6 separate regions of the Homo sapiens genome follow, and regions 1, 2, 4, 5 and 6 are each linked to region 3. Evidence: fine-mapped expression QTL. A gene starts in region 3. Each other region holds a variant in brackets. All regions are shown on one strand. Distances are between the middles of the regions.

Region 1 (5,076 bases), 79 kb before region 3:
CATTTATAAAACACTCCACCCAACAACAGAAAACACTATTTCCAAGTGCATATGGAATCTTTATCAAGATTGATTATATTCTGGGCCATAAAACAAGTTTCAATAATTTAAAAGGATTTAACTCATACAAATTATGTTCTCTCACCACAACAGAATTAAATTAAAAATTCATGACAAAAAGATAGCTGAAAAATCCCCAAAAATTTGAAATTAAACATTACACTTCCAAATAATCCATAAGTCAAATAGTAAATCACAAGGAAAATTAGGAAATATTAGGCTAGTCCTTGACTATAAGTCAAGGCTGAAGAGATATGCTAAGCAACAGTCTGCAAGTAAGAGACAGGGAGGCCCAATATTAGCCTTGGTATAATTTAGTTGCTTAAAAAGAAAAGTGCCGTCTGACAGTGCATTAATGGTATGATGTGCGGGTCATGGAATGTTACAATTCCATGGATACAGGTTCTGTGTAGACTGTATCTGGGGTTCAGTTTGGGAGCCAGGCTTTAGGGCTGTTGACAAAGTAAAGGAAATTGAGAGAAGAGCAATTGGAAGGAAAAGTTAATGCTGCTGTGTCTAGGTTAAAAAAAAAAAAAGATAAAGGAGAAGTTGGACAGTTTTCTGATAAAAATAGCAATTTTTGGCAGGAAATAAACTTGTTCTCTTTAGTTATAGAAAGCAGATCTAGGACCCTCCTCTGTAAGCTACCAGGAAGTAGATACTGATTTTGTAGTAAGTGGTCAACTAGCTAGCTACTTGTCGCTCTTTTCAGGGATGGTGTAGAATAGAACTTGCTGAGAATAGATGATTTTTAAAGATTTTTCCAACTCTTGAGGTATGTATGAGTAGACTCCAGAACAGATCACCCCACTGATCACCCTTTTTGGTTTTACAGATGCAGCACTCAAACAGGGCCTCCTGTTTCTAGCAAGACTCAAGACAGATTCCTGGGCCCACATTGACTTCAGACATTTGACTACCCATAAGTGGCTGAACTTAATTGGGAAGAGAATCCCAACTCTCAATGCTGTCTATTTTTACACTGACAATTTTGCTTTTTTTTTTTTTTTTTTGAGACAAGGTCTTGCTCTGTCACTCAGGCACTCAGGCTGGAGTGCTGTGGTGCAAACATAGCTCCCTGAAGCCTTGACCTCCCAAGCTCAAGTGATCCTCCCTTCTCAGCCTCCCAAGTAGCTGGGACCACAGGTGCATGCCACCACGCCCAGCCAATTTGTTAAAAAAAAAAAAAAAACCTTTTTGTAGAGACAGAGCCTCACCAAACATTGCCCACGCTGGTCTTGAACTCCTGGACCCAGGCAGTCCTCCCACCTCAGCCTCCCAGAGTGCTGGGATTACAGGCATGAGCCACTGCACCTGGCTGACAGTTTTGCTTTTTAAGTCATTATTACTGTTAGACAGGAGGCCAGGGAAGTCTCTCCTCAGTTTCTCATACAGTAACCTCACCCTGTAGAAAAACCTTCAGTGATTCTTTCCAAAGCAGGGCTCTAGAACAGGGTTTTTCATGTGGGGTTGGTCTGTCACCTCTTTGAAAGTATATATAAAGTTTCGTGTGTGCTTTTTTCTGAGGAGAAGGGGCTTTGGTATTCATTAGATTCCTGAAGGGATGTATCTATAAGATTAAGAATCACATGACCTATCTCTTCTTAGCTAAGGCAAGTCTCTCTTTTTTCCTTTTTATACTGAATGGCTTTCAGCTACCTTTAGTTAAATTCCTCAGACTGAGGTGTGGTAAATTGTTCAACAAGGACCAGGTTAATTGGAAGCCTCCCCTAAGCTCCCTGGCTGGGTGCAGGGCCCTCCTGCTGTGATCTTAAAGCATTCCCTGCATACTTGTGTCAGAGCGCTTGTTACATCATATTGAAAGGCTCTGTTTATGGGATTATCACTCATTATTAGACTTGAAGGGTTGGCCTGTGTTATATTAATTTTTGTATCCCCAGCACCCAGCATCATACCACGTATATGGTAGGTACTCAAAAATGTCATTGGCCTGAACTATTTTAACCATCATAAGTCAACAGATTCTTCTTTCCCTCCCAAGCAGCCAGTGTGTTCCAAGCTGTAACCCTGAGCCAGGTACTAAATTAGGCATTGAGAAAACAGGGGTAAGCTCCCAGTATGGAGCTTATAGGCTACATGCAGAGAGAACAGGATTTTTGCCACCCACTGGAACTGCCACATGTGAGCCATGTGCATTTACAGTGGTGCTGACCTTGCAAAAATTCCCCCTTCTATGACAGACATTAATTATGTGCACGTATTCAGCCATTTTCATCACTCAAAGCAAAAATGAAAAAAAAAAATGCTCTTTCTAGTCTTCCTCAAAACCATCCATTAAATTTCTCTTTAAAATCCTTTCTCTTTGAATACAGCTGTTAATGTTTTCCCTCTAAAAATAGAAAATTTAGACTGTAGTTACTGATAAAAGGAGTGTCAGCATTGAGAACGATGTTCTGCACATAGAAGTGGGGTGTTTTTTTTTTTGCTTTTATTTTTTAAAACTGAAAGGAAAACCTCATGATTAAAATAAAAATAAGGCAGAGCCATCATGCCTGGTTCACTAGTATGTTTTTTTTCTTTTCTAGCTTATAAATCTGTTTAATCACATGGATTTGGGTTTATGTGTGACCCTATTTTTCTGTGCTGCAAATGCGCCATCGGCTTCTAAAAGTATAGGCTTTTCCCAGTAGTTGACTTGGGCAGGATTTGCTCACAGAACCAGGCATATGGAGAGTCTTAAGTCCAGAGCACTATGCTGTCTCTGTTCTAAAGATCATTGCACTTAAGAAGTTCATGACTTTGGGGAGTATATTGAAAGCCATCCATGGATGTATATTTCAAAAGATGTATTTTGACACCCTCATCTGAAGACTGATCTAGTAGGTATGAGCTAAGGCTCCAGCATTGATAGTTTTAAGTAACCCCACTAATGTAGGAGAAGTCTTCATTTATGTGGTCATTGAAGTACACAAAGTTAGTAAGTTGCGTATGTACACAAATATCTGCACTGCTTAGAGGAA[A/G]TACGGCTTTCTGACTTCTTCGGTTGTGTCTCAGAGATATTTGAAATAATGCCATTTCCGCTGCATTCACTGTTCTAACTGCCCAAAACACGCTTTCCCTAAATATCAGCATAATCCTGTCTGTTTATTGTCTGTTTCCAACTCTGAAATGTAAGCTTCATCCGAGTAGGCATTTTGTCTCTTTTGTTCATTGATTCATTACAAGCTTCCAGAACAGTGCCTGGCATGTTGTAAGTAGTCAGTAAATATTTGTTGAATGATTACTATTAGTGTGGTTATTCAAATATGTTATTGGCTAAAAAGATTTCTTGAACTGCCCTGGAAACCTAACCTCTTCCATCTGTAGCATTTTCCATAATAGAATATTCCAACTGCTAAATAACAGATGTGCAAGTGAAAATGGGCAGCATTACCATACAGAGAAGTTGGTTAGTTCTTGATGGATTGCAACTTTATTTCAAAACAGGATGTGAAATGGTCTGACTTCGGGTTTCCTGGAAGAAATGGACAGGAAAGTACATTGTGGATTGGCTCCTTGGGAGCCCACACACCCTGTCATCTGGACTCCTATGGTTGTAACTTGGTATTCCAGGTACAAGGAAGGTAATGTGTGTGTGTGTGTGTGTGTGTGTGTGTGTGTGGAACGCACATGTGCATGCATGCAATAGGGGTGGCAGAGAGAATAGGGCAATACCCCAAGGTGTAGTCCCAGCCCCATCCTGTCAGCCTGCCTCATGATTAGGGCAGACCTCTTAACCTCTGGTTTTGGTTTCTCCTCTGTGAAATGAGGACAGTTAAAATGGTGGTTTACAGGTGCGTGCCTTGTCATGATCAGGATTGTCTTCAGAGAGTTTATTCTAGAACTCTGAGATTCCACTCCCAGGTCAGCTAGACAGCTCTCTGCTTGGTCTTTTTTTTTTTTTTTTTTTTGGTAAATTAGAGACATTTGAGACAGTCTTGCTCTGTTGCCCAGGCTGGAGTGCAATGGCATGATCATAGCTCCTGGACCTCAAGCCATCCTCCTGCCGCAGCCTCTCAAGTATCTAGGACTACAGGTGTGTGCCAGTATGCCCAGCTAATTTAAAAAACTTTTTATTTAGAGATGGAGTCTTTCTGTGTTGCCCAAGTATGGCCTCAAACCATACTCCTGCCTTGGCCTCTCAAAGTTCTGGTGTGAGCCACTATGCCCAGCCTATGCTTAGCTTTTCTTTTTTACATAAGAGTTTGTAGTTTTCAAACTTTTATTTAAAAATGGGAACACCCTTTCTTCAAATCTAAATAAATAAGAGCAGAGCAGTTTGTTGAAAGGAAGAGGCTTCACTGTTGCCCTCAAGCTCCTCTCCAAGGGATGCCAGCGATCCTGGTTTGAAAAATACTGGACGCTTTCAACTCTAAATTTTAGTTTGTGCCTACTTGACACAATACAGTGTATTGTTACCTTAGGTCAGTTTTTGTCTCCATCTATCTGTGGACTCTAGAAGATACGAGGGATAGGCAGTGCTTTTGATATACCTGGTTTCTGGAGTTCTATGAGAGTCTAAGTGTTTGTGCCACTTGGAGGATGTACTCAGATGTATGTGCAGCCTTATTTTCCCCTAATTAATGATGCCCCAGTCTTTTCTCCTGGTCATGTGGGACATTTACAGGGCAGCACAGAGAGTAAAACAGAAAAGGTCATGTGCAAGTTCTCAGACCTATTAGATGTGAAAAGGATTATGAGCAGATTCAGGAGAAATAGTCAGTATGTCTGTGGATACATTTCACATGTGAAGAACTCTGAGAATTACAGAATGGTAGAAGTTAGTCCACTCTCTGATGCATTCCGTCTTTATTAAAGGGCATAGAATGTGTCAGGTACATAGCTACACGCTGTGGATGCAAGAGTCAATCAGATGAGTGTGGTCTCTATCCTTGTGGAGTTAACAGGCTGAAACCTTAAACTTGGTAAGAGAGACAACATTTTAAGTAGCTGCTGTCCATGTGTTCTGAATTGGAAACAAGCCAAAGAAATTCAAGTTGGAAAAACATCAAAAAA
Region 2 (5,076 bases), 56 kb before region 3:
ACTGGTTATCCCCTGTCATTCAGAGTAGGATACCAATCAGGAGAAAAGTAGTTGTGGGTTCAGTATGAGGCCTCTTTAGGCAAGGAACTTGGACATCTAGGGACACCAATCCTAGGGCTAAAAAGGACTCAAACTCCCCAAACAGTGACTAAAGGCTTAGCTCAGTGAAATTGATCCCACTCTCATTACATTTGCAAGATCCAGGGATAATTAATTACCATTACTGTCTAAGAAGGAATTTAGAAATTAGAAAAGCATATTGATCTCTGAGTAACCATGCATGAAACAAATACACAACAGAAAAGATATGCAAAGTCACCTTTGAGATGAACTGATTGCTGGCTATCCTACTGTCCTCGAGGTAATGAGTATCAGTAAATCCAAAGAAAGTATGTGTTGTCACAGAGGGAAGGAGGGTATTGTTATGTAAGCATGCCAGGGAAAGAAGGGCCTGAAAAGAGCCCTTCTGTGGCTTTTATCTCCATCGGACCACTATGTATTTACCTATGAATTTCATTACTATCTCTCTCAACCAAAATGTAACTCCTTAAGGGTAGGGACTGTGATTATTGCTGTTATTTGTAGAGCCGCAATGAGTACCCAGCATGTAGTAGGTGCTTATTAAATATTTGAATGAATGAATAATAAAAATGAGACCTCATTGACAATACCTCATCAAGTACATTGGGACAGAGAATGTGGCCAAAGTAAGGTAGCTGTGATTCTTGGTATAGTCCTTTATTTATTTATTTATTTATTCATTCATTTTATTATTATTGTACTTTAAGTTTTACAGTGCATGTGCACAATGTACAGGTTTGTTACATGTGTATACATGTGCCATGTTGGTGTACTGCACCCATTAACTCATCATTTAGCATTAGGTGTATCTCCTAATGCTATCCCTCCCCCTCCCCCCACCCCACAACAGGCCCCGGTGTGTGATGTTCCCCTTCCTATGTCCATGTGTTCTCATTGTTCAATTCCCACCTATGAGTGAGAACGTGCAGTGTTTGGTTTTTTGTCCTTGCGATAGTTTGCTGAGAATGATGATTTCCAGTTTCATCCATGTCCCTACAAAGGACATGAACTCATCCTTTTTTATGGCTGCATAGTTTTCCATGGTGTATATGTGCCACATTTTCTTAATCCAGTCTATCGTTGTTGGACATTTGGGTTGGTTCCAAGTCTTTGCTATTGTGAATAGTGCCGCTATAAACATACGTGTGCATGTGTCTTTATAGCAGCATGATTTATAGTCCTTTGGGTATATACCCAGTAATAGGATGGCTGGGTCAAATGGTATTTCTAGTTCTAGATCCTTGAGGAATCGCCACACTGACTTCCACAATGGTTGAACTAATTTACAGTCCCACCAACAGTGTAAAAGTGTTCCTATTTCTCCATATCCTCTCCAGCACCTGTTGTTTCCTGATGTTTTAATGATCACCATTCTAACTGGTGTGAGATGGTATCTCATTGTTTTGATTTGCATTTCTCTGATGGCCAGTGATGATGAGCATTTTTTCATGTGTTTTTTGGCTGCATAAATGTCTTCTTTTGAGAAGTGTCTGTTCATGTCCTTTGCTCACTTTTTGATGGGGTTGTTTGTTTTTTTCTTGTAAATTTGTTTGAGTTCATTGTAGATTCCGGATATTAGCCGTTTGTCAGATGAGTAGGTTGTGAAAATTTTCTCCCATTCTGTAGGTTGCCTGTTCACTCTGATGGTAGTTTCTTTTGCTGTGCAGAAGCTCTTTAGTTTAATTAGATCCCATTTGTCAATTTTGGCTTTTGTTGCCATTGCTTTTGGTGTTTTAGACATGAAGTCCTTGCCCATGCCTACGTCCTGAATGGTATTGCCTAGGTTTTCTTCTAGGGTTTTTATGGTTTTAGGTCTAACATGTAAGTCTTTAATCCATCTTGAATTAATTTTTGTATAAGGTGTAAAGAAGGTATCCAGTTTCAGCTTTCTACATATGGCTAGCCAGTTTTCCCAGCACCATTTATTAAATAGGGAATCCTTTCCCCATTTCTTGTTTTTGTCAAGTTTGTCAAAGATCAGATAGTTGTAGATA[T/C]GTGGCATTATTTCTGAGGGCTCTGTTCTGTTCCATTGATCTATATCTCTGTTTTGGTACCAGTACTATGCTGTTTTGGTTACTGTAGCCTTGTATAGTTTGAAGTCAGGTAGCGTGATGCCTCCAGCTTTGTTCTTTTGGCTTAGGATTGACTTGGCGATGCGGGCTCTTTTTTGCTTCCATATGAACTTTAAAGTAGTTTTTTCCAATTCTGTGAAGAAAGTCATTGGTAGCTTGATGGGGATGGCATTGAATCTATAAATTACCTTGGGCTGTATGGCCATTTTCATGATATTGATTCTTCCAACCGATGAGCATGGAATGTTCTTCCATTTGTTTATATCCTCTTTTATTTCATCGAGCAGTGGTTTGTAGTTCTCCTTGAAGAGGTCCTTCACATCCCTTGTAAGTTGGATTCCTAGGTATTTTATTCTCTTCGAAGCAATTGTGAATGGGAGTTCACTCATGATTTGGCTCTCTGTCTGTTATTGGTGTATAAGAATGCTTGTGATTTTTGCACATTGATTTTGTATCCTGAGACTTTGCTGAAGTTGCTTATCAGCTTAAGGAGATTTTGGGCTGAGACAGTGGGGTTTTCTAGATATACAATCATGTCATCTGCAAACAGGGACAATTTGACTTCCTCTTTTCCTAATTGAATACCCTTTATTTCCTTCTCCTGCCTAATTGCCCTGGCCAGAACTTCCAACACTATGTTGAATAGAAGTGGTGAGAGAGGGCATCCCTGTCTTGTGCCAGTTTTCAAAGGGAATGCTTCCAGTTCTTGCCCATTCAGTATGATATTGGCTGTGGGTTTGTCATAGATAGCTCTTATTATTTTGAGATACATCCCATCAATACCTAATTTATTGAGAGTTTTTAGCATGAAAGGTTGTTGAATTTTGTCAAAGGCCTTTTCTGCATCTATTGAGATAATCATGTGGTTTTTGTCTTTGGTTCTGTTTATATGCTGGATTACATTTATTGATTTTCGTATATTGAACCAGCCTTGCATCCCAGGGATGAAGCCCACTTGATCATGGTGGATAAGCTTTTTGATGTGCTGCTGGATTCGGTTTGCCAGTATTTTATTGAGGATTTTTGCATCAATGCTCATCAAGGATATTGTTCTAAAATTCTCTTTTTTTGTTGTGTCTCTGCCAGGCTTTGGTATCAGGATGATGCTGGCCTCATGAAATGAGTTAGGGAGGATTCCCTCTTTTTCTATTGGTTGGAATAGTTTCAGAAGGAATGGTACCAGCTCCTCCTTGTACCTCTGGTAGAATTCGGCTGTGAATCCATCTGGTCCTGGACTCTTTTTGTTGGTAAACTATTGATTATTGCCACAATTTCAGAGCCTGTTATTTGTCTATTCAGAGATTCAACTTCTTCCTGGTTTAGTCTTGGGAGGATGTATGTGTCGAGGAATTTATCCATTTCTTCTAGATTTTCTAGTTTATTTGTGTAGAGGTGTTTGTAGTATTCTCTGATGGTAGTTTGTATTTCTGTGGGATCGGTGGTGATATCCCCTTTATCATTTTTTATTGCGTCTATTTGATTCTTCCCTCTTTTCTTCTTTATTAGTCTTGCTAGCGGTCTATCAATTTTGTTGATCTTTTCAAAAAACCAGCTCCTGGATTCATTAATTTTTTGAAGGGTTTTTTGTGTCTCTATTTCCTTCAGTTCTGCTCTGATTTTAGTTATTTCTTGCCTTCTGCTAGCTTTTGAATGTGTTTGCTCTTGCTTTTCTAGTTCTTTTAATTGTGATGTTAGGGTGTCGATTTTGGATCTTTCCTGCTTTCTCTTGTGGGCATTTAGTGCTATAAATTTCCCTCTACACACTGCTTTGAATGTGTCCCAGAGATTCTGGTATGTTGTGTCTTTGTTCTCGTTGGTTTCAAAGAACATCTTTATTTCTGCCTTCATTTCGTTATGTACTCAGTAGTCATTCAGGAGCAGGTTGTTCAGTTTCCATGTAGTTGAGCAGTTTTGAGTGAGTTTCTTAATCCTGAGTTCTAGTTTGATTGCACTGTGGTCTGAGAGACAGTTTGTTGTAATTTCTGTTCTTTTACATTTGCTGAGGAGTGCTTTACTTCCAACTATGTGGTCAATTTTGGAATAGGTGTGGTGTGGTGCTGAAAAAAATGTATATTCTGTTGATTTGGGGTGGAGAGTTCTGTAGATGTCTGTTAGGTCCGCCTGGTGCAGAGCTGAGTTCAATTCCTGGGTATCCTTGTTAACTTTCTGTCTCGTTGATCTGTCTAATGTTGACAGTGGGGTGTTATACTCTCCCAGTATTATTGTGTGGGAGTCTAAGTCTCTTTGTAGGTCACTCAGGACTTGCTTTATGAATCTGGGTGCTCCTGTATTGGGTGCATATATATTTAGGATAGCTCTTCTTGTTGAATTGATCCCTTTACCATTATGTAATGGCCTTCTTTGTCTCCTTTGATCTTTGTTGGTTTAAAGTCTGTTTTATCAGAGACTAGGATTGCAACCCCTGCCTTTTTTTGTTTTCCATTTGCTTGGTAGATCTTCCTCCATCCCTTGATTTTGAGCCCATGTGTGTCTCTGCACATGAGATGGGTTTCCTGAATACAGCACACTAATGGGTCTTGACTCTTTATCCAATTTGCCAGTCTGTGTCTTTTAATTGGAGCACTTAGCCCATTTACATTTAAAGTTAATATTGTTATGTGTGAATTTGATCCTGTCATTATGATATTAGCTGGTTATTTTGCTCGTTAGTTGATGCAGTTTCTTCCTAGCCTTGACGGTCTTTACAATTTGGCATGTTTTTGCAGTGGCTGGTACCGGTTGTTCCTTTCCATGTTTAGTGCTTCCTTCAGGAGCTCTTTTAGGGCAGGCCCGGTGGTGACAAAATCTCTCAGCATTTGCTTGTCTGTAAAGTATTCTATTTCTACTTCACTTGTGAAGCTTAGTTTGGCTGGATATGAAATTCTGGGTTGAAAATTCTTTTCTTTAAGAATGTTGAATATTG
Region 3 (5,076 bases):
GTGGGCAATATTTATGGGCACAAGTATTTCAGGAGAACAGTTGGTAATAATATGGGTATATGATCTCCAAAAAGGAGAAAGTCAATCTGGGAGGAAAAAGCTGAAACTCTGATGTCCAACCTCCCTTACCCAAGTGGACAGTCTTCCACCTGCACCAACTTTAGATCATCAACATTTAATTTTATTTAAGGAGAAGATGGGTTCTTACCACAAGGAACCCGACAACAACCAGGAACCAAACTATGTTGGTAAAGTATGATAAAATAGACACATCTGAAACAGGGCTTAAAATGTTATGTCAATTTACACCAACTTTTCAGAAATCCAGTGAACTATATAAAAGTGAGATACAGCTTCCCATTTGTTTCTATTTGCTATACATGAATAAATACGGAGAAGTGCTGGTGGGCTCATTCTTGTTATCTGCCTATTACAGTTTATATGAATCAAATCAGGTTATGCTATGGGCCCGCACCTGTTGAGGCCACTTCCTGGCATGGAGGGTGGAGAGTGTCCTCTGCAGAAGAAGAATGCACTTCTGGGACTTCAAGCGTAGGTCATTCATTGTTAGCAAATTCCTGACCCTTGTTACTGAGAAAGTGGTTCCTCAAGTAGGAAACTGAAACTGACTAGGGATTTTCCACCCCCAAGAACTTAGACCATACTAGGTTTCGAGTTTGTTTTTGTTTGTTTGTTTCTTTTTGTTTGTTTGTTTTTGTTTTGTTTTAGATGGAGTCTTGCTCTGTTGCCAGGCTGGAGTGCAGTGGTGCGATCTCACCTCACTGCAACCTCTGCCTCCCTGGTTCAAGCAATTCCCCTGCCTCAGCCTCCTGAGTAGCTGGGACTATAGGCGCACACCACCACGCTCGGCTAATTTTTTTGTGTGTTTTAGTAGAGACAGGGTTTCACCATGTTGCTCAAGGATGGTCTCGATCTCCTCAACTCGTCATCCACCTGCCTCAGCCTCCCAAAGTGCTGGGATTAACAGGCGTGAGCCACCACGCCCGGCCGGTTTTGAGTTTTAATAAGTTTTGGGTCATCTGTGCTGGGGGGTAAGACAAGAGGGGCCACTGGAGCAGCCTGGGGGTGGAGGAAGAGGAGTAGTGGGCTGGGGCCGGTCAAGGATGGAAGCCCAGCAGGAAGACTGAAATCTTTTCTGCTTGGAGGGCTAGAATTGAGTTATTTTATCATCACAAAATTATACTTTGTGCTATTTGTATTTTCATGCTGTTTAAATTTGTATAATTATTTCTTTTTGTTCATTTGGGGTTAACATTAACTACGGAAATTCTGAAACTTGAACACATTAGGGTCACCTGGGCTGCCGGTTAAATACACGCTTCCCACCCACCCCACATTCACTGAACCTGAATCTCTAAAACAGAGCTGGGAAGGTGCCTGGTTAACCTGCTCTCCAGGTGATTCAGATGCAGGTCAGACCTACTTCTAAGGATAATGGAATCTAAAGGAGAAAGAAGCATCCTTAAGGGCCAGATCGATGGTGATGCTGACCTCTGAAGTCAAAGTGGGGAAAACCCTCAAGGAAAAGTGACACCCAAAAGAGAAATGACTAATATCACACAGTTGCCCTTCTGAGCACTCCTTGGTAAAATTAATCCTAGGAAAACATGGTATTTTGTTTTCATAAGGGCCATGAGCCAAGCATATCTCCTGTCCCCCTCCTTCCTTCCTTCTGTGCGCCATTCTTTTTCTGTTTCATTTTTCCTTTTTGGATCCCTGCTTGGGCACTCTAATTGCATGGCCTCAGCCTCAGCCTCCTTGCCTCTCCTCTGGCCCGAATGCTTCTCCAAATCTAGCGACATGAAAGCGGAATTAGGGGTTGACTAGATCCCGATAGGTCATCATCCATAAGATGCCAGTGGAAAAGGTGCCCATTCTGGGAGCTGCAGGTCACTGGCTTCCCATTGCAGACCAGGGAGGCCCTTGAGCCAGCAGATCACCTCTGGGCTCTTGGCCCACCAAGTAGTGGTGGGTCTGTAAGGAGGGAACTTTGCCGACTTTCCCTCCAAAGCTCAAATCTCCCAACCCACAATCACTTCAGAATATCATCCTTGCTCCCAATCTGAGGGCCACTAGAGACTCGGAGAAGAGGCCCCGGCAGGCCCTCGACAATGGGCACCTGTGGTCGATCGACAGCCCCTCCAATGTGGCCGCTGTGACGGCTCTACGTTGACATTCAGGCAGTGTGATTTTAGGTAGCGCCTCTGCCCCTCTCCCAAGTGACCCCGGGACCCCTGGGAATCTCCAAGAACCACAAGGAATCTCTGTGACTTGCCACGTTTCTTAATCAGTTTCCTTCCCCACACAAGAATAATAACAACAGGAAAAGACAGAAAAGGATGATAAGAGGATAGACTCACTTCCACAACAACAACAACAAACAATAACACCACCACAACAGGGAAAGACAGAAAACGATCGAGGGATAAAGAGTTACTTGCGCGGTTCCGCCGCCACCTCCGGGCCGCGCCATTAAGCGCCTGGAAGCGCAGGGCGCCGGGGAACCGCAGCGCCCCGGGTGCGCTCGGAATCCATTCTGCCGCCCCCGCCCCCGCCCCCGCCCCGGCCACCTCCGCTACAGCAGCCGCCGAAGTCGGGCGGGTCACCCTCCCGTGCGTGCCCTGCCGCCATTTCCCTGGAGGGAGGGCAGAGGTGCCCCCTCCTCACCCCACCCCTCGCGCCCCTCACCGTCCTCCGGGTAGAAGAACACCAGGAAGCGGGATGGGCTCCTGGGATCCTGGCGGACCTCACACTCGCCGCCTCCCGACCTCTTCGGGCTCTGGAAGTACATCTGCAACTTGGTGTTCAAGTTCTTCGGGGGGTCGGGGCCCCAGGAGCCCTCGACCAGCAGCGGGAAGGAGCCGGGCACAGCCATCCTCAGCTCCGCTCTCCGCCGGACTGCAGGGGCCGCGCCAACTCCGGGCCGCTAACTTTGACTCTTTCGCTTTCGTTTCCTGGAAAACTCCCAGGCCTTGGTTTCCTTTTGCCTTCAGCCTAACACAGCGGACCCAGGAATGGCAGAGTCATCCCCCGCCCACCTCCCCACCTTCGCATTCGGCCCACAGCCAAGGCCAAAGTAACCCTTTGGGGCTGGCCAGCGGCGCCCCGGGAAGGCGGCCTCAGTTCACCTGTGCTCCACGGGCTCCCACACCCCCTCCTAACTCCGGGCCCCCTACCTGCCGCTCGCCCCAACCGCAGATCAAGTCGGCAGCTTTGGGGCACCAGACCTTGCCCAAACGCAAAGATCATTTAATTTTTGCCGCAAGCCGACCCTTTACAAAAGAATAAAATGACTCACAAACTGTGGCCCCTTTAGAATGTTTGCTGCCTATTTGGGGACTTTTTCAGCAATCATTGTGATTATCAGAATTTTACGTTGCTTTCCCTGTTTTGCTTTCTGTTCCTTGATCTGTTAATACTACATGTCTAGAAATGTGGGGGAAACAATTACACTCACAGTTTTTTTTGTGGAATATTTACTAGGCGCCATGCACTCACTCACTGAACCCTCGCTGAGCTCACGGAGCTATGGTGAACACAGTGGGCAATAGGTGCTCTGGGAAAGAATATACTTGTGTTCCTGGAACAGATGAGGAGTGGCTCCTAGTCCAGCTGTGGCGGCTCAGGGAGGGTTTATAGGGCGGTGACATGTAACCTGATAACCCCAGGATATCAGGGGATAGCCTTGGAGGGTTAGGAAGTGGGGTTCCACGGTGTGATTCACATGTACAGGATCACTCCGGCTGCTGCGTGGTGGCTAGAGTGGAGGCAGAGAGATCAGCCAAGTGGCTACCATAGTGTCCTAAGTGAGAGACAAGGGTGGCTGAGACTGGGGTGCTGGCAGAGAAGAACTGAGAAAACGAGGATTCTCAATTAATAGTGAAAGCAGGACTTGCTGAAGAATGTGAGCCTTGAGAGAAGGAGAAGCTCAAGGATGACTCCATGGTCAGCCATGGATGGCCCGTGCAAGTGGCTGGATAATAGTGGCATCTGCAAGAGGGGAGGCCGAGTGATGGGAGAGAAGCTGGGGCTGTGTGTTTCCTTGACCCCAAATAAAGCAGTGTTGCAAGTCGAGGGGGGCGGGGGGATTATCATTCCAGTGCTACCGATACCTCAGGTCAGAGAAGTGTCTGCTGGACTGCTGAGGAGCGGCAAGCATAGTCTCCTGGTGAGGAGGGAGGAGAGGGAGATGGCAGCTACTGAAGACTGAAAGGGAGGGAAGGAAGTGGAAGCAGAGAGCGTAACACGCTCTTTGCAGAAATGTGACCGTGAAGGGGAAGAAGGAGCCAGGCAGTAGGTTGTGGGGTTACAGGATCGGGCTGAATTTCAGAATGAAGAGAACCAGAGATGGGCCAAATGGTTTACCTGGCTTTTATTTCGGCTCTGTAATAATCCTAAACAGTACACAGATATTTTCTCCTGCCTCCAGCTTGCTACCTGCAGATGGCGCTCATCATCTGATCCAAAACTGCTCTGGACCCCCGCATGCGGAAGACGGGAGGACAAGCGCCCTCAGCCAGACTTGGTGACTGTTTCTCCCCAGGGCCTTTACATCTCATCCCAAACCACAACTAAAATCAGCACTCCTCCTCTCCCACTCTCCCCTGAGTTTGGGGTTCCAGAACTCAGCAAAAAGTTTCCCTTTTTCCTCACATAATTATTGTATAAGAAATAAAGTCAGAGGCATTTCTGGATTACTTTCGAGGATTTATTTAATTATCGACAATGTGTCTTACCACCGAGGTCTGCTTATCATGCCTGGGTGGACTGGGAAGGAGCTATCAGAGGATCAGGATGGCAGGTCTTGAAAGCCAAGGAAAGAAAGTTCTAGAAGGGGCAAATTGTTGAACGGCATTAGCTCCTGCAGTACTTTGTTTTCTGCAAGTTATTTTTGCCTTGTTCACTTGAAGAATGCGTATCCTCTCACAATTCTCTGTTTCCTGTGGGTATCTGCCTTCTGATCCTTTCTTCCTGGGAAGCACGTGTCTTCTCAGGGCCTGGGGTGGGGGTGGCCTGCTGTAGAAGTGGCCGTGTTCCTTGATTCTCCTTCTACTT
Region 4 (5,069 bases), 41 kb before region 3:
AAATTTTAATTGAAAACATGAATATGGCTGGGTGCTGTGGCTCACACTTGTAATCCCAGCACTCTGAGAGACAGAGGTGGGTGGATCCCAGCACTTTTGAAGTCAAAAGTTTGAAACCAGCCTGGATAACACGGACTCCATCTCTACAAAAAAAAAAAAAAAAAAAAAATAGGCGTGGTGGCATGTGCCTGTAGCCCCAGCTACTCTAGAGTCTGAGTGGGGAGGATTGCTTGAGCCCAGGAGTTGGAAGCTGCAGTAAGCTATGATCACGCTGATGCACTCCAGCTGGAATGACAGAGCAAAACTTTGCCTCAAAAAAAAAAAAAAGAAAACATAAATACAAGTTCATGATTTTCTTAGCTCTAGCCACAAAAGACCCTGGAAACAGCAACACCTCAATAGCAGTGAACACACGCAACACACGACTTTTGGTTTCTCACTACCATTCCCCACTAAAAGGTAACATGGCTTCTTAGAAAAATGTCTGATTCCAGGCACGAGACAAGGAAAGTACAGGATAAGCAAGACAAATCTCATGGCAAAAAGTAAAGAAATGCTCAAAGATTAATGGGGTCATTAAAAGACATGGGACCCAACTTCCTGCCAGCCAAATGGAGGATAATGTGTACATCTAACAGAATAATCACTGTAATTAAATATAACATACTGATTTTTTTCAAAATCAGGAAAAAAGAACATTTATTCTTCAAAAAAATGCCAAATAACATATACAGAAGGAATGACAGAATTAGAAAATCAACATCCTGCAACCTCCAGTGTAATGATGGATTCAGGCAAGGATCATCAATGGAAGTGAAAGTCAATCAGTACAAAATTGTTGGGGAACAGGATACTCATATGCTGACGAAGTATCATCCCACAGATAATCTACTGATTCCAGTGGAGAGAAATGGTGGTCACCCACTTAACTAGTGATCAAACTTAGCATCATTAATAGTGGGATGGCCTTACCATCTGAGGTTCCTGATGTGATGTATCACCTATGAAGTATTCTTGCAAAAAATATTTATCTGAATTTACTCAAACCTTTCAACCTAACTCAGCTTACCAGAAATAAAGAGGATAGAGAAATAAATGATATTATCAAGAATCAGATAAGTCTAGAATCTATAAAACTGGCATGGATTCTTCCACAAAAATCAAGGCATGACAGATCCAGAATGTGATACATTCTACAATACAATTGGCTTAAACTCTAAAAAAATTCATGTCATGAAAAATAATTTTTTAAATGCAAGAGTACTACTCTATATTAGAAGACACAAAGGAGACATAATGTCCAAACCGTGTGTGAACTCAGACTGGGGTTGGGGAGGGGGAGTTATAAGAGATTTTTTTGAACAACTGGAAAAATTAGAATATGGACTGTGGCCAGATGTGGTGGCTCACACCTGTAATCCCAACACTTTGGGAGGCCCAGGCGGGGGGATCACTTGAGGTCAGGAGTTCGAGACCAGCCTGGCCAACATGGTGAAACCCCATCTTTACTAAAAATACAAAAAAAAATTAGCCGGGTGTGGTGGTGGGCACCTGCAATTTCAGCTACTTGGGACGCTGAGGCAGGAGAATCGCTTGCAACCGGTAGGCGGAGGTTGCAGTGAGCCAAGATCGCGCCACTGCACTCCAGCCTGGGTGAAAGAGCAAGACTCCGTCTCGGGGAAAAAAAAAAAAAATATGAAATGCATATTGGATATTACTGAATTAATGTTAAGTTTTTAATTGGGATAATGGCATTGCCATAATTTAGGAGAATGTCTTTAATTGGGAGATACTTGCTAAAATAGGAGTATCATGATGTCTGCAACTTACCTTCAAATGCTTCAGCAAAAACAGACAGGGAGAGAAAGCAAAAGTGGCACAATTGTTGAATCTAAGTGGAAGGCTTATGGATATTAAAAACCTTAATCATAAGACATAATAGTCATAGAGGATGACAGACCACCCATTTTTTATGTTATTTTCACAATTCTAGGGACCTCCATGGAGGCACCTTAAGTACTACCCACACCTCTGCTTTTATCTGGTTCATACACTGGGATTTCACATAAGATTTTATTGAAAAAAAAGGTTTCACTGCAAAAAAGTGTTGAAATCAATTCTCTGGCCAGGGTCTGCCAATACACAGCAGGCATCCACAGGGCCCACTGTAGATATTGCTGGTCAAGCAGAACATTCATTCCTGCTCAATCTAAACTTAGCATCTCATCACAATGTGCCAATCAGCCACTACCAGTTAGTAGTAATTGGTACTTGGAGTGAGACTTACTTGTTATCTCAGAAATAGACCATCATAGAGCTGCATACTTGAATCATATTGTCTTGGTGCCTCATAGAATTGTTTTCATTCAATCAGGCATCGGTTTTGTTCAACCAGTTTTACATTAAAAAAAAACAGTGATATAAAAGTTGATATTTAATTTATTGTGAGGATGACGTTGAGGATATTCTCTAGTACTTGATCCACAAGAGAAATCTCTCAGGAGTCAGTCTCAGTATTGTGAGGAGCTGTGAGCCTCCTTATCAAATGGTTTGCTTTTTGATTTACGGACATTATGAGTCTTGTACCTGAATGTTTACTTCTTGCTTTGTCTACTAGGAAGCTCAGGGACAAATTGGTAACCTCATGTTATATATTTTTGAGAACTAGCAGTTCGTCTGTATTATCTTATTTTCCCTGCCATTCTTTTCTCTTTAACCATTTTTCTTTGTATATTTATTTTATCTGAAGGTATAGTTTATATCTTTGTAGGGCACTTTGAATCTTTTTAAATTATGATGTACTTAACAACATGAATAAACAGTGTTGGCAGTTCAAATAGAGAGTAAGAAAAATTTGCAAAGAAAATGTAGGTCTTACTGGCAGACTTATGGTGGATCAAAGATCTCCGGCTTTACTCAGAAAGTGGTAGAACCAAAAACAGAAATGAGGAAGGAAAGGGAAAGAGAATTACTTACGTATGATGCATTAGATTTTAGAGAAGTTGATTTTGCAGTTAGATATTCAAGTGGAGATTTTTTTTTTGAGACGGAGTCTCACTCTGTCGACCAGGCTGGAGTGCAGTGGCGTGATCTTGGCTCACTGCAATCTCTGCC[A/G]CCCATGTTCAAGCAATTATCCTGCCTCAGCCTCCCAAGTAGGTGGGATTATAGGCACCTGCCAACATGCCCGGCTAATTTTTGTAGTTTTAGTAGAGACGTGGTTTCACCATCTTCACCAGGATGGTCTTGAACCCCTGACCTCGTGATCCACCCACCTCGGCCTCCCAAAGTGCTGGGATTACAGGCGTGAGCCACTGTGCCCAGCCTCAAGTGGAGATTTTTTTAGGCCACTGGGAGTATGTTCTAGAGCTTGAGTCAAAGACCCAGGTTGGTAATGTTGATTTGGGAGCTATTGACATTGAACTAATAGTTGAATCCAAGAAGGGTAAATATATTCCCTGGTGAGGTACAGAGACAAAAGACCGTTTAAGCATAAATGGCGTGAATAAAGCTAGAATTAGGGGTTTGGAAGAGAAACAGCGTGCCTGCAAAAATGAAAAGAAAATTAGTCAAGGAAAAAAAAATCATAATAATTTTGCTAGAGAAGTCAAGGAAAATATAATTTCAAACAGCAATATCAAAAATGTTTAAAAATGGAAGAAGATGCCAAAATAATTGGTTGTTTTTATTTGAGAGCAGGATCTCACTATGTTACCCAGACTGGCGTCAAACTCCTGGGCTCATGCAATCCTTCCACCTCAGCCTCCCAATAGCTGGGACTACAGGCACGAATCATCACATTCACCTGCCCAAAATAATTATGATAAACGAGAAAAGGCCTGCTGGCTTTATCAAGGAAGCACTGTTGATCTGTGAATAATGGGGCAGAGTAACATGGTCCTGATCTAAGGAGCCTCTGCATGGCTCTCTGTGGAATTTGCTAGCTATCAAATCCAATTTTAAAGCCATATCTTTGAATTTGTATTAGCTTGCTTCACAAAGTAAATATATGTCTTTAGTGTTCTATCATATTACAATCAAATATTGTAATCACTGACACAAGAATCTTAATGCCTCAGTAATTATGGTCACATGAGTAGAATCTAGAACTACTAATTACCATACAAATTCTAATTCTGGGTTTAAAAAAATGTGATAGGAAGTGAATGAAAATGGATTTTATATAGGACCATGACAGAACTTATTTCCACCATCCAGAAACTGCATTCTAGCAGAAGGCTTACCTTCTCTATTCTGAAGTGTGAGCAGGTCTGATTAAACTTGCTTGCCACCGTGTTGTACTCAGGATCACTAGGCAGCAGCTCCACCACACAGAAATTCTGCTGCTTCATATCACTCCAGTGTGCAGGGATGTCAACTGCAAAGGAGACATTTGAGGATGCCCTCATACATCCCCGGTACACTCTGGAACATTTAGTATCTGTGTTCTTGTTTTACTATCTCCCAATTCTAAGCATTCAAAGAGTTCCTTATCTTTCTAGGAGAACGCTTTTCAAAGCATGAACAACAGACAACCTACATCAGAACCAACTGGAATGCTTGTTAAACAAAAAAAAGGAAAGCCACAGATCAACTGAATCAGCATCTGTGAGGGGCAGAGCCTGTATGTCTGCCTCCTAAGTTTGGATCATACTACGATTTGAGAACTGTTGGTGCAGTATAACTCATCTGTGTTTTCTGTTCAATCTCTAGTAGTCACAATTTCACAATAAATTATTTCCCTACAGTGTTCTAAGTAGTTGCTGTTTTGTTTGTGCATGGATTTTTGCCAGAACTCCTCACCATCACCACCACAGGCACTCTACATCTATTTTTTCATTATTCTTCATAGCATCTTTAAGAGGCAGTTAGGTGGCAGATTTTGCTATGTGACAAGCTGTGGTGACAGCTCTGTCTTCTCCTCTGCTAAGCAGAATACTATATGTGATTTATCATTTCCCCAGGGTTGCTCAGAGTCTCGGGAATCTGTTCACACTGATCTCACAGGAGATAAATATAGTGTAATGGAAGCCAATTTACTCATTTTCAAAGGGGACTTAATCTGGTTCGAA
Region 5 (5,076 bases), 70 kb before region 3:
AGCTTCACATCATTTCCATCTACTCTGCTCTTAATAGGAAATCTCATACTGAGTCTGGATAGATGCCATCCTTCTTGACTCTGCCCATTGCTTTTGTTTATTATACCTTCCTATTTATATCTTAACGTTTAATAAGTGGACCTTTGCAAGTATCTCCTGTCCTTCTCAGACTCTCTCGATACCACTATTTTAACCATCCCCCTACTTAGAATTTCTCAACAACTCCTAGTGCCTACCAGATAAAATCTAGATTCTGAAGTCCGCTGTCCCTAAACTAATTCCCCTACCTTATCTCCCATTATTCCCTCTGTGATAGTAAGACTGACCTACTTGCTATCTTCTGTAGTCCTACCTCCCTCACCTGTACCTCTTATCCTTCCTGGCATGTCCTCATTCTTTCTGTGTCTAAATTCTCTCCTAGCCCGGGTTCAAATCACACTTCTTCCATCCATGTTGCCCCTGACCTCCCTAGTTCATGCCTGTTTCACCCACCTCTGAAATTCTGAAACACCATTGTCCCCTGATTTACCACTTCTATAATGCCACCTTTCTATACTTTATCTTCTCATTGGCTAGATTTTGAGCTGTGAGAAAACAGAAGCCACGTCCTATGTGTTTTACCTATGCCCTTTCTCAGAATGCACGCAACTATTTTGTGACGGAAAGGAGGAAAAATTAGAATCTCAGAATCATGTACTAAGATTTAGGTGCAGACAAAGAAGGCCCAGGATTAAAGAGAATAGAGATGCTGGCAGTATCCTTTGTAGAACATGTGAACTTGTCAATAAAAAAGGAATAAAAGGAAAAAAGGTTTGCGGGGTTTTTTTTCTTACTTTACTTTTCTCCAGCAATATTATTGTGAATTCATTTGTATTCCTTTTTTTCCTAGCAGCCTCAATTAGGGTCTGATTCTGACATAAAAATGAAACGTCCTGTTCTTGTGCTAACCATTCTTTGTTTGGTTTTCAGGTTCTCTTTGTTCCCAGACACTGGTGGCATTACGTAGAATCCATTGATCCTGTCACTGTCAGTATAAACTCATGGATTGAACTGGTACTTTTTCGTTGTTTTTTTTTTTTTTTTAAGTAAGTGCAAATCATGCTTTTAAAAGATATATAAGGTCTGGCTGTACAACTGGGTAATTAATTTTTTTTAACCAATGCTTCAGTATTTTTTTGTTGCAGTGCACTATAACGTATGCATTCTGTCTTCTGTTAATGGATGTTTAGGTTGGAAATTGGAATTTTAGTGGTGTGCCACTCTCTTTCTTTTAAGGACACAGAATGCGCCTGATGCTGGCATGCAGGGTCCTTTCCCTTGACCAGTGTTGTTAGGAAAATTGTATTGGGCCTGGCCAGATTTGCCGATATGTGTCCCTTGTTGCCGCTCCTCTTTCACACCATCTGGGCTGGAAATACCTGCTTCTTGGTTCAGGGTCATTACTAATTGCAGAATTCTGTCTTGGCTTCTACATATTCTCAAAGCGGAGTCTTTCTTTCAGTGCTAGGTTTTTATCATTTCATTTCTGCCAGAAGCCTTTCCCTCTGATGTGTTAAGCTTAATCCTGGTTGCCTGCTCTATTTGACAATTAGAATAGCTGCTTGTTATGCTCAAGTCTGTCTCTTCAACTGGGGCCTTAATTGCAGCTGCCTCTCTTTAACCAGAGGCCCTGACTGCATCTCTGCTCTCCTTGACCTGAAGCCTGGATTGCATCTTTCTGCTCTGTTTGACAGCCGTATCCTCTCCCTAGTCTAGTTTTTCCTATCCTTTGCTAATAGGAATGGCTTTGGAATCAGTGGAACAGAAGGAATATTGTTACAGAAAGCTATGTTGTGTGGGCTTAGTGAAGAGTTGTAGCCCTTGAGGCTTAAGTGAGAGGTATGGCAGGAGATCAGTAGCGTCACAGAAATTTCGCCTATAGCATGCTGAACTGGAGTTGCAGCAGATGTCAAGGTAGAATCCATGGAGAACTTCCACTCCCAATGCCAAAGTCATATCTACAATAGCCCTGACAGGTGCTTCACCTCCCAAGGAAGTTCGCTTGTTGTTAAAGAGTAGAGCTGTCATCTTTTTAAAATATTTGAAAATACCTCCAAGTTTTTCCATAATCTTTTCTTCTTCCATGCTCAAAACCTCTTACTTTCTTTAATGGGGTGTTTTTATGGGTGATTTTTTCCTTTTTCCAGACTTTTTACCATTCTGGCCATAGACTTTGGAATCAGGCAACTTTAAGATACAGGTTACCTTTGTTAGCTGTCTAACATAGATAATTACTTAATCTCTTCAAGCCTCCATTTTCTTGTAAAATGAGGATTATAATTGAACCCACCTCAGTAGAGTAATTGGACAACACATTGTAAAAGCATCTAATATAGTGCGTGGCATATGGGAAGTGTTTAAAAAGTAGAAATTGCTATGAGGAGGAGGGAGAGCTATTATGTCAAGAATAGTTCTCTTAATATATAGTGCCTAAAACTGAATATCAGTAGGCCTTATTTGGTAGAGTATAAGATTTCTACCCCACATGATCTCGATCCTAAATATCTCCAGTGCTGCTTGTAATATTGGGTTAGTTTTT[T/A]AAGTAATCTCATCTCACTTTAGTTTCATATTCAACTTTAAAATATCTGTGATTTTTTTTCACATGATCTGCTGTCAGGCAGGTTGAATCCTATCCTGTACCTATAAAGCTGATTTTAATTCTAAATCCAGTATTTCACAGTCATCCCTGTTAATTTTCATCATATTGGTTTGGTTGAGCATTCCAGCTTGACAAGATAATTTTAAATTTGGGTCTTATCTGTCATTTTAGTGAAACTTCAAGCTGGCCTGTGCCCTTTTGATATGTCCCCGTTAATTAGACTTTGAGTGTATCCTGGCTTTCTGGCACAGGAAGATATCCCAGGATACCCTTTCTCCTTTAGTGCCCCACACTTGGAAGTCAATCATTTCTCCAGGTAGCCACAGTTCTTTTTGTAGGAAATGGCATTTAGAAACTGAGATCTCAGCTCTAAATCTGTTCATTGCTCCTGGGTGTCAGTGTTTCTAGGCTCTTTCAGTGATGTAGCTAGAATGTGAGATAGATAGATAGATTAGATAGATAGATAGATAGATAGATAGATAGATAGATATTGATGTATTTATATTTCTAATTCATGTGTTTAAAAAATATATCTAGACAGGTAATATGCTGACGTCATAACAAGGCTTAAGGGAGGCATGTCTCACACATGAGCATGACACCCAATCATCAGACTTATGAACTATAAAAGTATCTAATTCAAGTTTAACATGATAGAATTTTTTATTTGTTTCTGTATTTTTATCTCTTCTCTTAACACTGAAAATCTGGGTCCTTAAAAACAGTAACATAAGGCCGGGCACGGTGGCTTACGCCTGTAATCCCAGCACTTTGGGAGGCCGAGGTGGGTGGATCATGAGGTCAAAAGATCGAGACCATCCTGGCCAACATGGTGAAACCCTATCTCTACTAAAAATGCAAAAATTAGCTGGGCATAGTGGCACGCACCTGTAATCCCGGCTATTCGGGAGGCTGAGGCAGGAGAATCGCTTGAACCAGGGAGACAGAAGTTGCAGTGAGCCGAGATCAAGTCACTGCACTCTGGCCTGGCAACAGAGCGAGTCTCTGTCTCAAAAAAAAAAAAAAAGAAAGAAAACCAGTAACATATTTACTTGTTTGCTGTATCCAGCAATATATTTTTTAAGATATCAAATTTGGCCGGGTGCAGTGGCTCACACCTATAATCCCGGCACTTTGGGAGGCCGAGGCGGGCAGATCACATGGTCAGGAGATTGAGACCATCCTGGCCAACATGGTGAAACCCCTTCTCTACTAAAAAAATACAAAAAATTAGCCGGGCATGGTGGCGCATGCCTGTAGTTCCAGCTACTCAGGAGGCTGAGGCAGGGGAGTCACTTGAACCCAGGAGGTGGAGGTTGCAGTGAGCTGAGATCGCGCCATTGCACTCTAGCCTGGTGACAGAACAAGACTCCATCTCAAAAAAAGAAAAAGATGTCAAATTTATGTTTCCAAAATTCAAATAGTAATATTACTACTAACCATAAAGCTTGCAAGTAAAAATTAAGATTTCTTTGCAATTCTTTTTATTATTAGACTGTATCTATCACTAAGAGGGATAGATACAAAGTCCTTTATTCAGGAGTCATTGTGAAGGAATTCTTTTCATTTATGGTTATTTTACTAATTGGATATTTAGTTAAGTTCATTTGTTTCAGTTTGTTTTCAATTTTAGGATTTACCTTTTTAAAATTTTGATCTAATTTAATATTTTAAATATGTAGAACATTTAACTTGTCAAAACTATGTTAAAAGTTATACTCAGGGAAGTCTGCCTTTCATCCCTGTTCCATCCACTCCATTTTTCCCAACCTTTATAGAGATCCATTTTTATTCATTTCTGGTTTATCATTTCCAGTGTTTCTTGTAAACATATATATCTATATCTATATATAAAAGTAAGTAAATGAATAGATATATTTATATATGTAAATAAGTATATAAACAGTCTTATATGTACAAAGTGCATAAGCATATAAATATGTCTTTACTTATTTATATACTTATTCAAATATATTTTAAATTTTCTATCCTTTATTCCATAGAAAGTAATAAACTATAGTGTTCCATACCTTGCTTTTTTCAACAATAATATCTTGAATTTCACTACATAATAGTACAGAGAAATATTCATATTTTTCTTCAACCACTGTCTAGTACTTCACTGTATGGGTGCTCTACTGTTCATTAGTTCCTTTAAGGATAGATGTTTGGGTTGTTTCCAGTCTTTTGTAATTACAAATAATGCCACTGAATAACCTTGTGCATATGTTGTTTTATATTTGTTGAAGTGTGTCTTTGGGGGAGATCTTAACAATGGATTTGCCATGTCATAGGGTAAATGTATCTTTAATTTTGTTAGGTTTTGCCAAATTCAGCTTCATTGTGATTGTGCCATTTTGCATTTCCATTAGTAGTATGTGAAAGTGCTTGTTTCCTCCACAGCCTCACCAACAAAATCTGTTGTTGAACTTTATTGT
Region 6 (5,075 bases), 230 kb before region 3:
CCACGTAAGCTGCCTGTAAGAGGTTGATGCCCCTTTTTGAGTGCTGAAGGAAATAAATTCAGGAGTGGGCTTTGCTGAGTTCTCATTGGTTGAATTTGCTAGCAGTCCTCTTGATCCCAATGTCAGCCAGTAAGCAGAGTCTCAAAACCACAGGTTGCTGGGACTACTTGTGTACATGTGTTGCATGTAGTCCCACGATGTCCAGTTTGATGGACTCTACTGATAAAACACCCTCAAATCAAACCATTGATCCCAGAGGAAAATATGACCACATTTATCTTGTACAATTTACCCAAATTGTCCTTGAGTGAATAAACTGGAAACAGATACCCCAGCAACAGTTAAGTATTCTGGATTCCTGGGTGGGCCACAGTGTGCTCACCGGGCTCCCATGATTGCCTCGCTTATATGAGGCTGCGGGTTGGCCAAGAGCAGCAGATAGTACTGTCTTCTTTGCCCTCCTTTGCTGACAAGGAGAAGCCCCACCCTCTTCTTTGTATAATTAACCTCATTTTTCTCTGGGGCCTGACATGATCTATTGAACCCACTGCAAGTTAAGAATTCACCTGACAGGTTACTCTCCCTGAAGCTTCAAGAGATAAGAAAAATTCTACCCCAGGGATGCCAAGAGCTGCAACTCTTAGCTCTTCGTTTGTTCTTGGTGTATCTCTTTAGCCCTAGGCATCTTTGGCCCCTTTGTCCAATGGGAAGATCCCCCTGCAAACTCACAGAATGTTGTGAACTCCCCGCCAGGCTCCATCTTCTTTGCAGTCCAGTACATCCTTCTCCAAAGCCTCTTCTGTTTTCCAACCTCCAATTTCTGAGCCCATGCTTAGTGCTCTCTCCAGACCCTCTTCAGCAGACTGGCTCAGAAGGGGGTGGAAGCTGGGGACAGGAACCAGAGGGATCGAGGTATCCCCCAGGATTGGCAGTGGGCTGAATGTTGGAGGGACCCTCCTTCTGGCACCAGGATTGGATACTCTCTGTACTTAGCAATGGATAGCAAAGCCTGATTCCATAATCCCCACAGACTTTTTCTCCCCTTTCAAGTCCTACTAGTGGAGATTAGATTTTTCTGTTAAAAAATTACATGAAGACATCAAAAGGAGAAAAAGAAGAAAGAAGCTCTGGACTATGAGAAGTGGAGGCATTTGGGGCATGCATCAGTGTGTGAACCAGTTATCATTTTGGGGCCACTGTAGAGAGACCAGCCCTCAGGGTTGAGGAACCGAGAACTGGGATGTGACCGCCTACAGCTTGAGCTCATTCTCAAGATGCTAAAGCACTAGACTCTGATTCCTGCCACTAAGCAGCACAAGCATGTGGGTGCTCCAGGTGACCATGGACAGTACCCAGGTGTCTGCCGATCCTGCGCTGTGTTTTGAGGGATGGGCTCATATTCAGTGTGTGAAATCAGACACAACCTCCCGTGGGAAGCAGAAGTGTGAGGGGAAAAGCGTGGTCAGAAAGCTTAGGTCTGGGCCCAGCTCCACCACCTATGATCTGTGTGATCTCAGGGAAACTACTTATCTCCTTGCCTTGGTACAATGAAAAGGTTGTATAGTGGATCCCAGAGGTTCTCAGCCTCGCTCCCATTAGAATCACCCAGGGAGCTTTTAAACACTACTTCGCCCCTAGAGAGTGTTGAGTGGGGTGGGCTCGGGTATTGGTATGTTTTGAAAGCTCCTCAGGTGATTCTAATGTGCAGCCAGGGTTGAGAACCATCTGTAAGGCTTTTTCCATCTCTAATGTTTTATGACTCTATGATCATAGCATGTGCCAGGGAGGCATTTCCTCTTTGGGTTCCTGTTAACCACATCTGCACCTGTGGCTGTGGGTGAGGAGTATGGGGCACCCATATTTGGGGAAAGCAGTGCCGTCTCTTTTAAACGTGCAGTCTCTGGAGGATGAGGGTTTGAGTCCTGGGTCAGGTCACTGGGTTTCCCCCAGATAACATGGGAATAATAACAGTACCCACTTCATTGGGGTGCTGGATTTAAATTAATTCATGCTTATAAAGTGCTTAAAATGATGCCTTACACACAGTAAAGGCCCAATGAACTTCATTATTATCATGGAGGACAAATGGATGGAAAGTGGTGCACAGAGGGGAGTGTTCACGTGTGTTCCTGAGATGCAGGTGAGGCTGGGAAGCCAGTGGGCTTGAATCTCAGGACGTCTGTCTGGCAGGGCATGCCTGGGGGCCCGGGACCCGTACTGTGGCTGGGACGGGAAGCAGCAACGTTGCAGCACACTCGAGGACAGCTCCAACATGAGCCTCTGGACCCAGAACATCACCGCCTGTCCTGTGAGAATCCCCTTGTGTCCTCCCATCTCAGACCCCTCCTTCAATTCAGGCTATGACTCCCCACCAATATTCCCCCAATCCCCTGAGATCTTATGACTTCCCTGCCCTTGGCTTGGGTAATAGGGGTACTGTCTCCCATGTGTGTCTTCAGGTGCGGAATGTGACACGGGATGGGGGCTTCGGCCCATGGTCACCATGGCAACCATGTGAGCACTTGGATGGGGACAACTCAGGCTCTTGCCTGTGTCGAGCTCGATCCTGTGATTCCCCTCGACCCCGCTGTGGGGGCCTTGACTGCCTGGGGCCAGCCATCCACATCGCCAACTGCTCCAGGTATGTGAGGACAGGGTTTACATGGTGTCTGCCTTGGACCAGGGTGGGGAGAACTAGGGAAACGGGGACCCCTCACTTGGGTGTTTGCACTAAGGGACAGAAACCACTTCAGGGCTGTGCTAGGGACTGGATAGGTGGCTAATATCTGAGGCAGGAAACCTGAGCCCTGAGGGAGTTTCCACGCTAGTGAGAGAGAAGTTTCTATCTCTTGGTGACTCTTGATGCAAAGTGGAATGCTGGGCAGGCATGGAGGTCACTCCTAGACAAAAGCGTGCCTCAGTAAGTCTCATCCCAAACATGAGGAACAGCATGGGATGATGGCAAGGCAAGCAAATCTAGTGCCAATTCCGGATTGCCACTGTCTGGAGGTGTGGCCGTGGCCTAGCCACCTAACCACTCTAAGCTTCTCTTAGTGAGGGTTATAGTACCCACCCAAGAGTTGTTGGGAGGGTTAAATGAGATAAGGTATATACAGAG[C/T]TTGCACAGTGCCTGGTACCTGGGGACTCCATTAGACACTTTTTCTTTTTTTGAGACAGCGTCTCACTCTGTTGCCCAGGCTGGAGTGAAGTGGTGTGATCATGGCTCACTGTAATCTCCTGCCTCAACCTCCTGATTAGCTGAGACTACAGGTGCCCACACCATACCCAGCTAATTTTTAAAAATTTTTTGTAGAAACAGGAGTCTCACTATATTGCCTAGGCTGGTCTCAAACTCCTGGCTTCAAGTGTTCCTCCCACCTCAGCGTCCCAAAGCTCTGGGATTACAGGCATAAGCCACCACACCCAGCCTTGGACACTCTTAAAAAAACTATTTCATACACATTTATTAATGTAGCCCTCACAGCAACCTCATGGGGGTAGGAATACAATCATTGTCCTTACTTTAAAGTTAAGAGTACTTTAAAGTTAAGTTACAGAAGGTTCTAGTAACTTGCCCAGGGTTTCACAGCCAGCAAATGGTAGAGCCCAGATTTGAAAATTGGCGTCAGAGTAGGCATGAGTGAGCAGTGTCTGAGGCTGGAGCAAAGCATGTGCAATATAGTACAGGGGACAGAGTGTTGGTTACAGTGCAAGGATTGGGACCAGCCAGGAAGGCTGAAAGGGAGGCTGCAGACTGGAAAGGGGACTAGGGCCTTCTTCTCTAAAGAGTCTGCCCTTTTGGCCCTTGTGAGATGGGGCCATGTCCTACCTCTACGTCCTTAGTCCTGAGCACAGCATGATATATAGAAGAAGGCTCTCAATACATGTCTGAAGGAGGAATAAATGAACGGATGGATGAGCGAGTCTGCCTGAGATGACCTGTTTAGGAGAAGATATTTCTATGTCACTGTCCAGCCCTTTCTGACAGCAGTAGAAAATACATCGGCCCAGAGACAGACTAGATCTAAGAAGCTAGGGCTCAGAGGGGCATCTGTCTCTGTCCCCTCCCACCCCGCCAGGAATGGGGCGTGGACCCCGTGGTCATCGTGGGCGCTGTGCAGCACGTCCTGTGGCATCGGCTTCCAGGTCCGCCAGCGAAGTTGCAGCAACCCTGCTCCCCGCCACGGGGGCCGCATCTGCGTGGGCAAGAGCCGGGAGGAACGGTGAGGGAGAACAGGCTTGCTCTGAGGTCCCAGACTAACCGGGCCCCCCAGAAAGTGGCCTGGATTCTCCTCGTGATCCCGGGGACTCTCGTCCTTTCCGGTCTTGCACTCCCAGGGACCTCTCGTCAGGGAAGGGGGTCCCCCTCCCTGGATTGACGCCTCTCCCCCGACCCCAGGTTCTGTAATGAGAACACGCCTTGCCCGGTGCCCATCTTCTGGGCTTCCTGGGGCTCCTGGAGCAAGTGCAGCAGCAACTGTGGAGGGGGCATGCAGTCGCGGCGTCGGGCCTGCGAGAACGGCAACTCCTGCCTGGGCTGCGGCGTGGTGAGGGTTGGGGCCGTGGGCCAGGGGCGCGGTGTAGGGTACTGGAGCCGAGGGGAGGGCGGGCCTGGAGGCCGTGGGGTTCTAAAGCTGCCTCTGCCGCCACCCGCAGGAGTTCAAGACGTGCAACCCCGAGGGCTGCCCCGAAGTGCGGCGCAACACCCCCTGGACGCCGTGGCTGCCCGTGAACGTGACGCAGGGCGGGGCACGGCAGGAGCAGCGGTTCCGCTTCACCTGCCGCGCGCCCCTTGCAGACCCGCACGGCCTGCAGTTCGGCAGGAGAAGGACCGAGACGAGGACCTGTCCCGCGGACGGCTCCGGCTCCTGCGACACCGACGGTACCCCGCGCCCGGCGCCCCCTCCTTCCTCTCTCCCAGCCCCGGAGCGGTGAGGGCGGGGGCGGGAGCCCCGGGGAGGCCCAGGCCGGGGTCGGGGTGGCCGGGCGCCCAGTCGCTGAGGCCTAGCCCCTCCGCAGCCCTGGTGGAGGTCCTCCTGCGCAGCGGGAGCACCTCCCCGCACACGGTGAGCGGG

Evidence for each region.
Region 1: its variant is fine-mapped to the expression of PARP14 in whole blood (TOPMed, PIP above 0.99).
Region 2: its variant is fine-mapped to the expression of PARP14 in whole blood (INTERVAL, PIP above 0.99).
Region 4: its variant is fine-mapped to the expression of PARP14 in whole blood (TOPMed, PIP above 0.99).
Region 5: its variant is fine-mapped to the expression of PARP14 in whole blood (INTERVAL, PIP above 0.99).
Region 6: its variant is fine-mapped to the expression of PARP14 in whole blood (TOPMed, PIP above 0.99).

Annotation. Positions count from the first base shown.
Region 1 is chr3:122,757,792-122,762,867 of GRCh38, reverse strand. HSPBAP1 (HSPB1 associated protein 1) reads left to right here. Exons shown (of 8, transcript NM_024610.6): 4 at 3,508-3,644. Among named protein-coding and RNA genes, the nearest start is that of HSPBAP1, 34 kb to the left of the region's middle. The variant A/G (reference allele first, on the strand shown) is at 3,042.
Region 2 is chr3:122,734,712-122,739,787 of GRCh38, reverse strand. No RefSeq gene overlaps it. Among named protein-coding and RNA genes, the nearest start is that of PARP14, 56 kb to the right of the region's middle. The variant T/C (reference allele first, on the strand shown) is at 2,076.
Region 3 is chr3:122,678,704-122,683,779 of GRCh38, reverse strand. PARP14 (poly(ADP-ribose) polymerase family member 14) reads right to left here and starts at 2,941. Exons shown (of 17, transcript NM_017554.3): 1 at 2,710-2,941. The coding sequence starts at 2,896. RefSeq lists enhancers at 528-717, 738-817, 2,203-2,292, 2,834-3,233, 2,658-3,430 and 1 more and a silencer at 2,544-2,593.
Region 4 is chr3:122,719,561-122,724,629 of GRCh38, reverse strand. It overlaps PARP14 (poly(ADP-ribose) polymerase family member 14), which reads right to left. Exons shown (of 17, transcript NM_017554.3): 15 at 4,242-4,375. Among named protein-coding and RNA genes, the nearest start is that of PARP14, 41 kb to the right of the region's middle. The variant A/G (reference allele first, on the strand shown) is at 3,115.
Region 5 is chr3:122,748,568-122,753,643 of GRCh38, reverse strand. It overlaps HSPBAP1 (HSPB1 associated protein 1), which reads left to right. Exons shown (of 8, transcript NM_024610.6): 6 at 970-1,053. It overlaps LOC124906363 (small nucleolar RNA U13), which reads right to left and starts at 3,272; the gene lies at 3,169-3,272. The variant T/A (reference allele first, on the strand shown) is at 2,579.
Region 6 is chr3:122,913,006-122,918,080 of GRCh38, reverse strand. It overlaps SEMA5B (semaphorin 5B), which reads left to right. Exons shown (of 23, transcript NM_001031702.4): 13 at 2,191-2,308; 14 at 2,460-2,641; 15 at 4,080-4,223; 16 at 4,400-4,547; 17 at 4,657-4,882; 18 at 5,020-5,075. Among named protein-coding and RNA genes, the nearest start is that of LINC02035, 29 kb to the right of the region's middle. RefSeq lists an enhancer at 4,241-4,741. The variant C/T (reference allele first, on the strand shown) is at 3,119.